2 separate regions of the Homo sapiens genome follow, and region 2 is reported to be linked to region 1. Evidence: microRNA targets listed by miRTarBase, many of them from high-throughput screens and not tested one by one. Region 1 holds a microRNA gene; the other region holds the end of a gene's coding sequence.

Region 1 (5,317 bases):
CCAGTGTGGGTGGCAACTCTTCCCTCATCCATGCAGCTTGGCCCTACCTTGATCATCGTCCTTTTTAGCATGAATTTATCAATTGCCCAGTATTTTCAATGGACTATAGAGGGTACAGAGAAAAGAAAAGTGAGAAATGGCATCTATATTCAAAAGATGCTGCAGAGACAGCTCCCCACGCCCAGCCTGCCTTGAGAAAAAGAAGCCACAAGAAAACTCATGCTTACAGCACAGACTAGGTGTTGAAGGCAGGTGGTGCAGAAACTTAGGAGGAGCGGCACTGAAGACTAAGGAGGTCCAGAGACCATAGAAAAGTTATTGGGAGAAGGAAGGACTTGAGCCGGTATTTGAGGAACATTGTTAAGGTCTAGACTGACAGATTAAGGGAGGAAGATCACCTCGGACAAACAGCCGACAGGAGTCTCTGCCCCTTGGAAGCAGCTCTAGCAGGCTGTTGTGTAATGGAAATGCTGACTTTCACTTATACAGTACATTTCTATAAAATTATCAATACGAGAAGCTGTCTAAAAAGGAGTGAGGTATTTTTTCATCAGTGAAGAGGCTGGTTGCATGTGCTATTTCTTCCTAGAAAGCAGGAACTGGGTCCAGAATTGGTCTGGCTTCAGAAAACAAAAAAGCCGTTGCCAAGTCTAGGGTTTGTACAGCTCTCCAGTGGAGTTATGAAAAGCCCGGTTAGAACATAAAGAACGGTCTGTTCTGTGGGAGGCAATACAGCTTCACCGAGGGGAGAGGGAAAGTAAGCCTGTATCAGTCATATTTCCATCCCTGGGAGACCATTAGGAGAAATTCAATTAAAACCCATGACTTCTACCAAATCTCTATGGCCAGTTTGAAGAGACTAATTCTTAGAAAAAGCTGACTCCAGCATTATCTGTCTTTAGCTGAGCTGTTATGAAAAGAATATAAGAGTAACAAAAAAAATGGTATGTGCTTTTATTAAAACAAAACATAACAACAACATAATGCTGTTGCAGAAACTTGGAGATGCTGCAAATGTAGGTCTGTTCTGCTTGTTGGCTTTACCTCTCTCTCGTTCCTTCCTTCTTCCTCCTCATTCTTCATCTTTCTTCCTCATTCTAAGCAGAACATTTACAAAATTCAGGCTTTCTGTAGGGTGAAGAGCTGAGCTTCAGTTCTTCTCTGGGGCAGAATATTAGCAAGGACAGTGAGCTTAGTTTTGACTGATTCTGGCATCTTCACAAAGCAAAAACCAAAGTATTGACGTAAGAAAACTGGATTGGGAGTTGGGAAAGGTTATGACTTAATGATAAAGGAATTAAAGAGACACATTGGCATTATTTTTTTCTCCTGACACCTGCACAATGCCAAAAGATAAATCAGAACAGAAAACATTAAAATTGGAAAGGAACTTAGAGACCACCTAGTCAAGGGATGACAGATTCCACAGCCAGTACCATCTCTAAGGTATTGGCATTGATAATCGCTTCTCTCTGGAACTTTGTGTTGAGTAGGATTCTGAGGCTCAAGTTAAACTCACCAGGATTGACTCTTCTGATCAGAGAGCAATGCCTAGTCTTAGAGAACAGAAGAGGCAGGGTCCGCATCTGGTATTAGCATTCTTTATTTAGTTCAACAAAGTCACATGGAGACAATATGTTACATCCTGACTTTAAACATTAGTTCAGAGAAGAAAAGTTGCTGAGATCCCTGCTGCAGTTATCCACGACTACATAACAAACCACTACCAAACTTTGCGTCCTAACAACAGTGATTTATTATTTTGCACAGCCTTGTGGATAATGAGCTTAGGGTGCAGGTTGGGGAGACTGGTGGTTCTCACATGATAACTCAGAGCTCCCAAGAAAGCAAATGTGGAAGCATCTAGACCTCTTAAGGCCCTGTCTAGAATTGTCTGGGCAGCATTTTCATCACATTCCACTGGTAAAGGTGTTCTTACCTTGTATGTGCCTGCAGGGATGAGAGAATTTTGGCCATCTTTGCAGATAATCCACCACAGTCCCTCCATGCTGCCTTCATGCAGCAGGTAGGTGAGTACTCCACAGGCTTTGCCACCCAGAACAGGGAAGCCAAACTGTCAATCTCAAGTCCCTAATCTGTGACCTGCTTATAATTCTTACTCCACAGTTATCATGGTGAAGACCAACGAGATGATGAACATGTAGCACATATCTGTATCACGAGAATTCCACGAGAAGAGCTCAAACTTTTATCATTTCATTTATGCCTGTTAGCATGAAAAAAGAGGCTGAGAAGGGAAGATGGTGACAAGGAATTGCTAAGCAGCAGGTCACATGGGTCACCCAGCGTGGACCGGCCTGAACACAGCTTCCATGTCCCCACTCTTGCCAATGTTCTCATGTGGACACAGCTGGCTTTGTTACATCAGAATGAAGGCCTCCCTTATGATGGCTCAGTGTTTCCATAGAAATGTCCAAGGAACATGATTATAGAGTCAGTCCATTCATTAACACAGAGGGTTAGGGGTTGGGAAAATCATCTAATCCAACAGCCTTATTTTGAAAATGAAGTTTCCAAGCCCTAGACGTTCATGGAAGCTCATGAAAGGCTCCTAATCACAGTGCCCTTTCCGCGGTAACATGGGCTCCTTATTTAGTTCCATTCAGAAAACCTGAAGAGAGGCCTCCCTGGCCAACGGTAGTGGGGATTAGAAGCAGTCCGTTTCTGTTAATATTTATATTCTATTTTAATAAAGCCTGGCTTCTTACAATCAAGTGCAACCTAATTTGTCCAGAGCCGACACTCCCGAGTGTACAGAATCCCCATTTGATTTTGCTGTTTGGAACGTTATCCACTCAATGGTTTCTCTAAACAACAGTGAAAGTCCCCATCCACCATGAACCTGCAGAGCATAACTGGATATTTTCTGGCCAGTTGGCTCATTGCCTACAGCAGAAATCTTCAAGCAGAAGCTACTGAAACAAGGACACTAATTTGCTAAGCCAGGAAGTTTTTCAAAGTCCATGATCCAGAAACACCAAAAATAGAAAAACCAACACAAAAATAAACAAATAGAAAAGTGGCCCATGCCTGTAATCCCAGCACTTTGTGAAGCCAAGGTGGGTAGATCACCTGAGGTCAGGAGTTTGAGGCTAGCTTGGTCAACATGGTGAAACCCTGTCTCTACTAAAAATATTTAAAAAATTAGCCAGGCGTGGTGGCGGGTGCCTGTAATCCCAGATACTCAGGAGACTGAGGCAGGAGAATTTCTCAAACCCGGGAGGCAGAGGTTGCAATGAGCCCAGATGGTGCCACTGCACGCCAGCCTGGGCATCAAGAGCGAGACTCCATCTCAAAAAAAAAAAAAAAAAAAAAAAAAGCCAGAGATTTTCTTAGATAAGTATGTGGAAGGATCCCAACATCTAAATGTTTCTACATCATGAGATGAAAGGAAATTAATGATGATCTCTTTTTTTTTCTTTTTTTTTTTTTTTCCAGATGAAGTCTTGCTCTTGTTCCCCAGGCTGGAGTGCAATGCTGCCATCTCGGCTCACCACAACCTCCGCCTCCTGGGTTCAAGCAATTCTCCTACCTCAGCCTCCCGAGTAGCTGGGATTACAGGTGTCCGCCACCACGCCCAGCTAATTTTTGTATTTTTAGTAGAGACAGGGTTTCATCTTGTTGGCCAGGCTGGTCTCGAACTCCTGACCTCAGGTGATCTGCCCGCCTCGGCCTCCCAAAGTGCTAGGATTACAGGTGTGAGCCACCGTGCCCAGCTGATGATCTCTTTATAGTAATTTCTGACATACGTATATCTTCAGGGTTGACATACAGATTATGCTTTTCATTCACACAACTTTCAGGTTAAGTCTGACTGGTGTTACTACCCACACACCATAGAGGAGGAAAGGTAGGCTCAAAAAAACTGACTTGCCCAAAACAAGTTAGATGGTGGGACACAAGATAGAAAGTGGGGAAGTCAAGACTGAAGCACCCACCTCCTGGCTCCATCACAGCCATGTGTGCTGATATCTGGGCAGCTAAACGTAGAGTGCTGGAGCCCACATGGGGTGTATGGCTGGGGAATTTTAGCTTTACTCTCATTTCTAGCATCTATGTTGGAAAAGCATTTTGTGTTTTATGCTTTTATTGTATATTCAGCCAGTCAAGAGTCATAGTCTATTTCATTCAGGCTTATGCCACTCACTAATGTCAGTAGAAGCCTATTCGTTTCTTAGAAATTGTAGTGGAAGATGTAGAAAGTACACTTGTCAAATTTGGGCATGATTCATCTGTGAGAGGAACCTTGTGCATGCAAACTCAGTAACAGCGTTCACAAAAATCTGGACAGGCTTGAAAGACAGGCTGAAAATAACATTGCAGCAGGAGGAAATGTAATGGTATGAACCTGAATTCAGAAGGCAACTGCCTAAAGGTGGACTAAATAGGTTTAATAGAAATTGCTTTAAAAACAACCAGGAAGGATGGTTAGCATTAGTTAGCTTTGCAGTCTGCATGAGCTTATGGTATGAAGGGTGAGTCAGAAGGTTATAGCCCCTTAAGCCACAGTAAGAGAGTTTGGGTGTTCTGAATGAGGGGGACACATCTGCTTTCTCACTGTTGGATGCAGCAGCGCTTTTGACTCATTTGTGCAGAAGAAAGCCCTGGGAACTGAGCTGTATTTGAAGAATGAACGAAGGATCTGTTAACATTTAGCCCAAAGAAGAAAGGATACATTAGATAAGACTGAATGGATGTTTTCAGATCATGGAAACATTTCCAACCTAGACAGTCAACTGATGAAGGACTCGGGAGCCAGGTACTCAAGCAAGTGGAGGAGGCCCCCACGCTGGGCATATAAGTCGAGTAATTCAGGGTCCTGAGCTCACGGACAAGCTACAACGCCGCTCCCAACTCCTGACTCCAAAATCAGAACCCATGACTCTCTGAAAGAGATATCATGGAAGCAATTGAGAAGGTAATTGGTTTCAGAAAGTTTCAAAAAGCAAAGCACAACAACTAAACAGTGCTGATTGAAATTAGCTGAGCACATACACATGTTTCAACCCAGAAAAGCAATTCCACTTTAAGTACTTCATGTCAGTAAAGCACTACCTCTGATCTGGTAAAATAACACTCCTGATATCCCATGACTCCATGCGTGACTACATTTTGCATTCCTTGCACAGACAGATTTTCATACTGACTAGACAGGGATTATGAGCTGTGTGTCAACTCCTTGCCGTTGAATTGGTTTCTGCATTTCTGTGGAACATACTCTAAAATTCATGAGATTGGAGATGCTCTCTGTACAGGCTCATGTAGGCAGTGACAGACACCCTTAATTTGTAAGCAT
Region 2 (5,000 bases), not on the chromosome of region 1:
GCTGCCGAGTCCGGGCGAAAAGCAACGCATGCTGTTGGACAGGATACGAGCTTGAAGTGAGAGGGAATAGAGAAGAGGGGACGAAGAAGGGAGTTGAACGGGGTAGTAGTCAGCATAGGGTTGGGCCCTGGCTGCGTGAAGGAGCCGGAACTGGCCTGGGCCTTACAACTTCCTTAGGTAGCTGGTCACGCTCTGGGTGGGGTAGGGGCCTTGGCAGTCACTGGGACTCCTAACACCGGGCCAGCAGGAGACTAAGGCGCAGTAGCGGGGCCCAGAGCATACAAGGGATTGGGCTTTGGCTTCTCTGCTGCAGCCCTGAGCTCATAGAAGCCTCATTCCGCCGCCTCTTTCCTTTCTAGATCCGGGTCTTCCTCCAGCAGCTCAAGGGCCGCGTAGCCCGGGAGGCCATTCAGAAAGTGCATCCGGGTGGCCTTCAGGGACCAAGGCGCCGGGAGGCACAGCCCCCAGCCCCCATAGAGGTGAGGCAGATGAACAGGGTGAGGCTGTCCAGGGCAGGTCCCTGGTGGGTAGGTGGGAGTTGCGGGGGATAACCTGATTAGGGGATCCCCAGGAGGAGCAGGGCTTGGGGGGCCATTGCAGGCTGATCCCTGGGCTGACCCTGTACCTCTGGCTTCACTCAGGTCTGGACGGATCTGGCTGAGAAGATAACAGGGCCACTGGAAGAAGCCCTGGCAGTGGCTTTCTCGCAGGTACCGCCATTCCCCCAGGCAGGTCAGGGTGTCCCAGAGGACAGGGTCACATGGGCCAAATCATGTGAACCTGGGTCCTGGGCCCTTTTGCCAGCTCTGTGGACTCCGTCAGTCACTGGACACCTCGAGCCTCAGTGTCCCTGGCTCTGAGGCCATCTCTTGTCTGAGGAGCATCTTAGGGTGGCAGGGAGGATGGGGGAATGTGTAGACGGTGAGAAGACTTCCCAGCTCCTCTTCCTCCCTGATTGTTCTGCCTGCCAGGTGCTCACCATCGCGGCCACGGAACCGGTCACCCTCCTGCACTCCAAGCCCCCCAAGCCCACGCAGGCCCGTGGAAAGCCTTTGCTCCTGAGCGCCCCTGGAGGACAGGAAGACCCCGCCCCTGAAATACCTAGCTCTGCCCCTGCTGCACCTAGCTCCGCACCCAGGACTCCTGACCCTGCCCCTGAGAAACCTTCTGAGTCGTCGGCTGGTCCCTCCACTGAAGAAGACTTTGCTGTGGACTTTGAGAAGATCTACAAGTACTTGTCCTCTGTCTCCCGAAGTGGCCGCAGCCCCGAGCTCTCAGCAGCTGGTGAGAAGGGTGAGGGAGGGGGCAGGAGCAGAGGGATCAAGGGTCCCTGGCAGCAGGCAGGGGTGTCCCCTTACCCCTCTCCTCCATCCATCACTAGAGTCCGCTGTGGTCCTCGACCTGCTCATGTCACTTCCAGAGGAGCTGCCACTCCTGCCCTGCACAGCCCTGGTTGAGCATATGACGGAGACGTACCTACGCCTGACAGCCCCCCAGCCCATTCCCGCTGGAGGGAGCCTGGGGCCTGCAGCAGAAGGGGATGGGGCTGGCTCCAAGGCACCAGAGGAGACCCCCCCAGCCACCGAGAAGGCCGAGCACAGCGAACTGAAATCGCCTTGGCAAGCAGCTGGGATCTGTCCCCTGAACCCGTTCCTGGTGCCCCTGGAGCTTCTGGGTCGGGCAGCCACCCCTGCCAGGTGAGGGGCATGGCGGGCAGGAGGCCACACCAGGCCCCCCGCCCTGCCCCTCGGTTCTGCTCGGCTGGCCCTGGCTCTTTCTGAGGATCCCGTCATGGGGGAAGGTCCTTGAGATGATGCTCAGCTGTGGGGCGGGCCTCTAAGATGCCCCATACTTTGGGGGTCTCAGAAATGGAACCCCCGTTGTACAGGGGTTGGGTGGGGGTTGCAGGACTCCACTCACAAGCCTCCTGATGTCAAGGACAGGCGGACAGGGCTGGCCTCCCCCAGTCCCCAAGCCCCACTGTGCCTTGTTGTCTGCTGGGGGGCCATAGCTGGCACTGCCCACCGTAAAGGCCCTCGCACATTTTCCCCCTTCCTGTACACCTCGGGGCCAGCATCCTCACCTTCTTCAACTGACCAGTCGTGGTTACTCCCTGCTGCCAGGTCCTTCCCCTTCCCGGGGGTATTCTGTGACCATGAATAAAGTTATCATTCTCTTTCTCTTTCACCTGTGACTTAAAGATGGAAGTGGGGGCCCTGAAGTGTCAGAGCTTGGGGGTCACAGGGCTGGGGGTGTGTGCCAGGGAGGAGAGCTGCCACCTGACTGGTGTGATGAGGCCTGGGGTGAGGAGCCCCTTGGTGACTGTGAAGCTGACAAGTGTGGATGGGGAGAGCCGGCAGGGCACCTTGGGGACAGGCGTCAGGGATGGGTTTCAGAGTAGGGCAAAATCACATCGCACAGGTGGAGGGGAGAAGGCAGCAGAGAGTGGGGGTGACCCGGTGGAAGGAGTTGAGCCCCAGGCTGGGCGGTTAGAGGAAGATAGATAGGGGTGGGCTGCCCCGAGTGGCAGGAGGCTAGTGGGAGTGGAGTGTCCCCTGGGGTGGCTTTGGGACCTCAAGGATCCCTAGAAGGCGGGGAGGGAGGGGTACTGGAGTCAGGGCTGACCCCAAACCCCTGGGGGTGCTGGGACCCCGCTTGAGGCCCCCTCCATCAGCTTCACCTGCCCTGTGGGTGTGGACCGAGGGTCGGGTCCTAGAGAGGGAAGCAGATGTCCTCCCACGGCACCGCGTCCCACGCCCAGCTAGTAATCCAAGTCGGTAAATTCTCCGTTCTCGGAGCCTGTGCATTCACCCAGCCTGCCTTTTATAGAAACGCTCATTCCTCCCCCCACACACTGCACACGGCTCCCCTGGGGTGCACATCTCTTGGGAGGGCCTTGGAGCACAGCCAGCCCACTCCGTCCGTGGTCACCGCCCCACCGCACCAGACCCACAAACGCTGCCAATGGTGGTGGGCAGGGGGAGGAGGCTTAGGCTGCAGGTACGGTCGGTCGTCGGAGCCTCCCTCCAGGGCTGGCAGAGGGTGCGCCTCCCAGTTCCCCACAGGGCTGAGTCTCTCTCACCACCCCCGGCGCCTCCCCAGATCAACAGAATTGTGTGTGGAGGGGAGGCAGCTGGGGGTTACACATCAGCCCCCCCCCCCAAAGCCGGTGAAAGGTGCTTGTGATCTTGGTGTCTTTGCAGCCCTGGGAAGCTTTAAAAACATGCAAAAGCCAGACCTGGGTTCCACTTCCAGCCCTACCAGACTCTAGCCATGTGACTGTGGGCAAGTCAGTCACTGGAGCTGCCTGGCCCTCGGTCTCCTGGCCTGTAGAATAGGGATGCTAACAGGGCCTGGCTCATTCTCACGATCCCGAAGAGGAGACAGGCTATAAACAGGAGGTGCCAACTCAGCACGCTACTTGGCATGCAGTAAGCGCTCAATAATAGCTTTTATTATCATGTTCGGCTCAGAGGCAGGGAGGAGTGGAACGGCATGGGAGGGCTGCGGGAGGCACGGCAGGGGGGTCAGGGGCAAGTGGCAGGAGGGCGGATGGGGGGCAGCGGTGGGCACCGGGGCAGGGCGCGCTGACCTGTCCTGGGGCCCGGGTTGGGGGCAGAAATGAGCCTGCCCACGCTGTCCCGCCACGGCAGGCGCCACGCATCCTCGACACAGCCGCCATGGCAGGCCTTCGGGCTCCGTCTCCGGGACAGGCGGTGCAGGGCAAATTGGTATGCAGCGTCCGCCCCGTGGGCCCGGGAGAGCCTGCCCCGCAGGGACCAGAGCCCAAGGACGGGCTCAACACTCAGTCAAGGTGGGGTTGACGACGGCCAGACAACAGGGGAGGGAGGAGGGACAAGGGGGTCCCCACTTCCAGGGACGCACAATAGCAGAGCCACTTACACGCTGGGGAGGGGGCGGTGCGGGGGTCCTCCTCCCGCCCGGGATTCAGAGTCGGGGGTGGGGGCCAGCCGGGCGGGTGAGATGCGCAGAGAGGAAGGGACAGGGCGGATAAAGGCACGAGGTGGGGCTCCGGCCAGGCCAGGAAGGGACATGGGAGGGGTCTCGAGGGGGAGGGGCTGGGCTTCTCCCAACTCCCTCCCCCTCTCCCCCGGGCTGGGGGCTCCGGGGCGGGATCCTGAGCGCAGTCCTGGCCCCGCGGCGCCCCCCGCCGGGCCGGCCCTCTGAGACCCCGGCGCAGGGCCGGCTAGGGGGCGCCGCGCCCCTCACACCAACGCGTAGTCGAACTGCCCGCGCTCGAGCGCCTCCTTGTGGTCGGTCCAGGACGAGGCGGGCATGCGGCTGTAGGGGTCGAGCAGGATGCGCACGCAGCGCACCATCAACAGCACCAGCACCACGAGCAGGCAGAGCACGAAGGCGAACACCGTGCGCTGCTCCGCGTCCAGGCCCGCGCCCACCGGGGGCCCCGTCGACGGCGGCAGGGGCTCCGGCGACAGCGTCCACGTCGCGCTCATGGCTCACATCGCCGCGCGCCCTGCGGAGGAGGGGACCCGCCCCGGGCGCCGGGGATGAGGCTGCGCCCTCCCTCCCGCGCCTCCTCCGCTTCGCCCCCTCCTGCCGCCGCCGCCGCCGCCTCCCTTAACGTGCCCGACCCCATCCCCCGCCCGCGCCTCGGTCCCCGGGCTACGCCCATGCCCGGCCCGCCGGATCGCCGCCACCACCACGCGGGGACCCAACTCTGGCCGTGCGCGCAGGTGGGGGCGCTGAGAGCCGGGAAACGGAGCCGCGCCCGGCCTGGGCCGCACACAACAGGTGCGAAAGCGCGGCCGCGGCCCGGGCGCGCGGCGTGGGGACGGTCCCCGCGGCCCCTGCCCCCGCTCCCTTTGTTCTCGGCGGCCTGGGACCCCCTCCCCCACCGCCCCCGCCCCGGCGCGCCCCTCACCCTGGCTTCGACCCGGACGGGGACCGACCGCCCGGCGGCCGCGCTCTCTCAGGGACCCGCGCCGGCTGCGCGTTCGGCCTCTCCCCGGCGGCGGCGG

What was found. The annotated mature microRNA hsa-miR-7515 reads AGAAGGGAAGAUGGUGAC and lies in region 1 at 2,252-2,269, shown strand. An mRNA with a match to its seed (bases 2 to 7 or 8) in the 3' UTR can be bound and repressed. Matches are read on the target gene's strand: a 7mer-m8 pairs with bases 2 to 8, a 7mer-A1 pairs with bases 2 to 7 and ends in A, and an 8mer does both.
Region 2: the mRNA of CTXN1 is a reported target of hsa-miR-7515. Seed matches in the 3' UTR shown: 7mer-m8 at 4,046-4,052 and 7mer-m8 at 3,997-4,003.

What each region holds. Positions count from the first base shown.
Region 1 is chr2:6,648,167-6,653,483 of GRCh38, forward strand. MIR7515 (microRNA 7515) reads left to right here and starts at 2,207; the gene lies at 2,207-2,273. It overlaps LINC03156 (long intergenic non-protein coding RNA 3156), which reads right to left and starts at 2,353. Exons shown (of 2, transcript NR_110497.1): 1 at 1,940-2,353; 2 at 941-1,215.
Region 2 is chr19:7,921,064-7,926,063 of GRCh38, forward strand. CTXN1 (cortexin 1) reads right to left here. Exons shown (of 2, transcript NM_206833.4): 1 at 4,904-5,000; 2 at 3,428-4,495. The coding sequence starts at 4,475. The coding sequence ends at 4,227. SNAPC2 (small nuclear RNA activating complex polypeptide 2) reads left to right here. Exons shown (of 5, transcript NM_003083.4): 2 at 360-479; 3 at 642-710; 4 at 972-1,284; 5 at 1,382-2,187. The coding sequence ends at 1,701. It overlaps LOC124904629 (a long non-coding RNA gene), which reads left to right and starts at 4,342. Exons shown (of 2, transcript XR_007067120.1): 1 at 4,342-4,773. RefSeq lists an enhancer at 503-1,105 and silencers at 4,367-4,456, 4,987-5,000.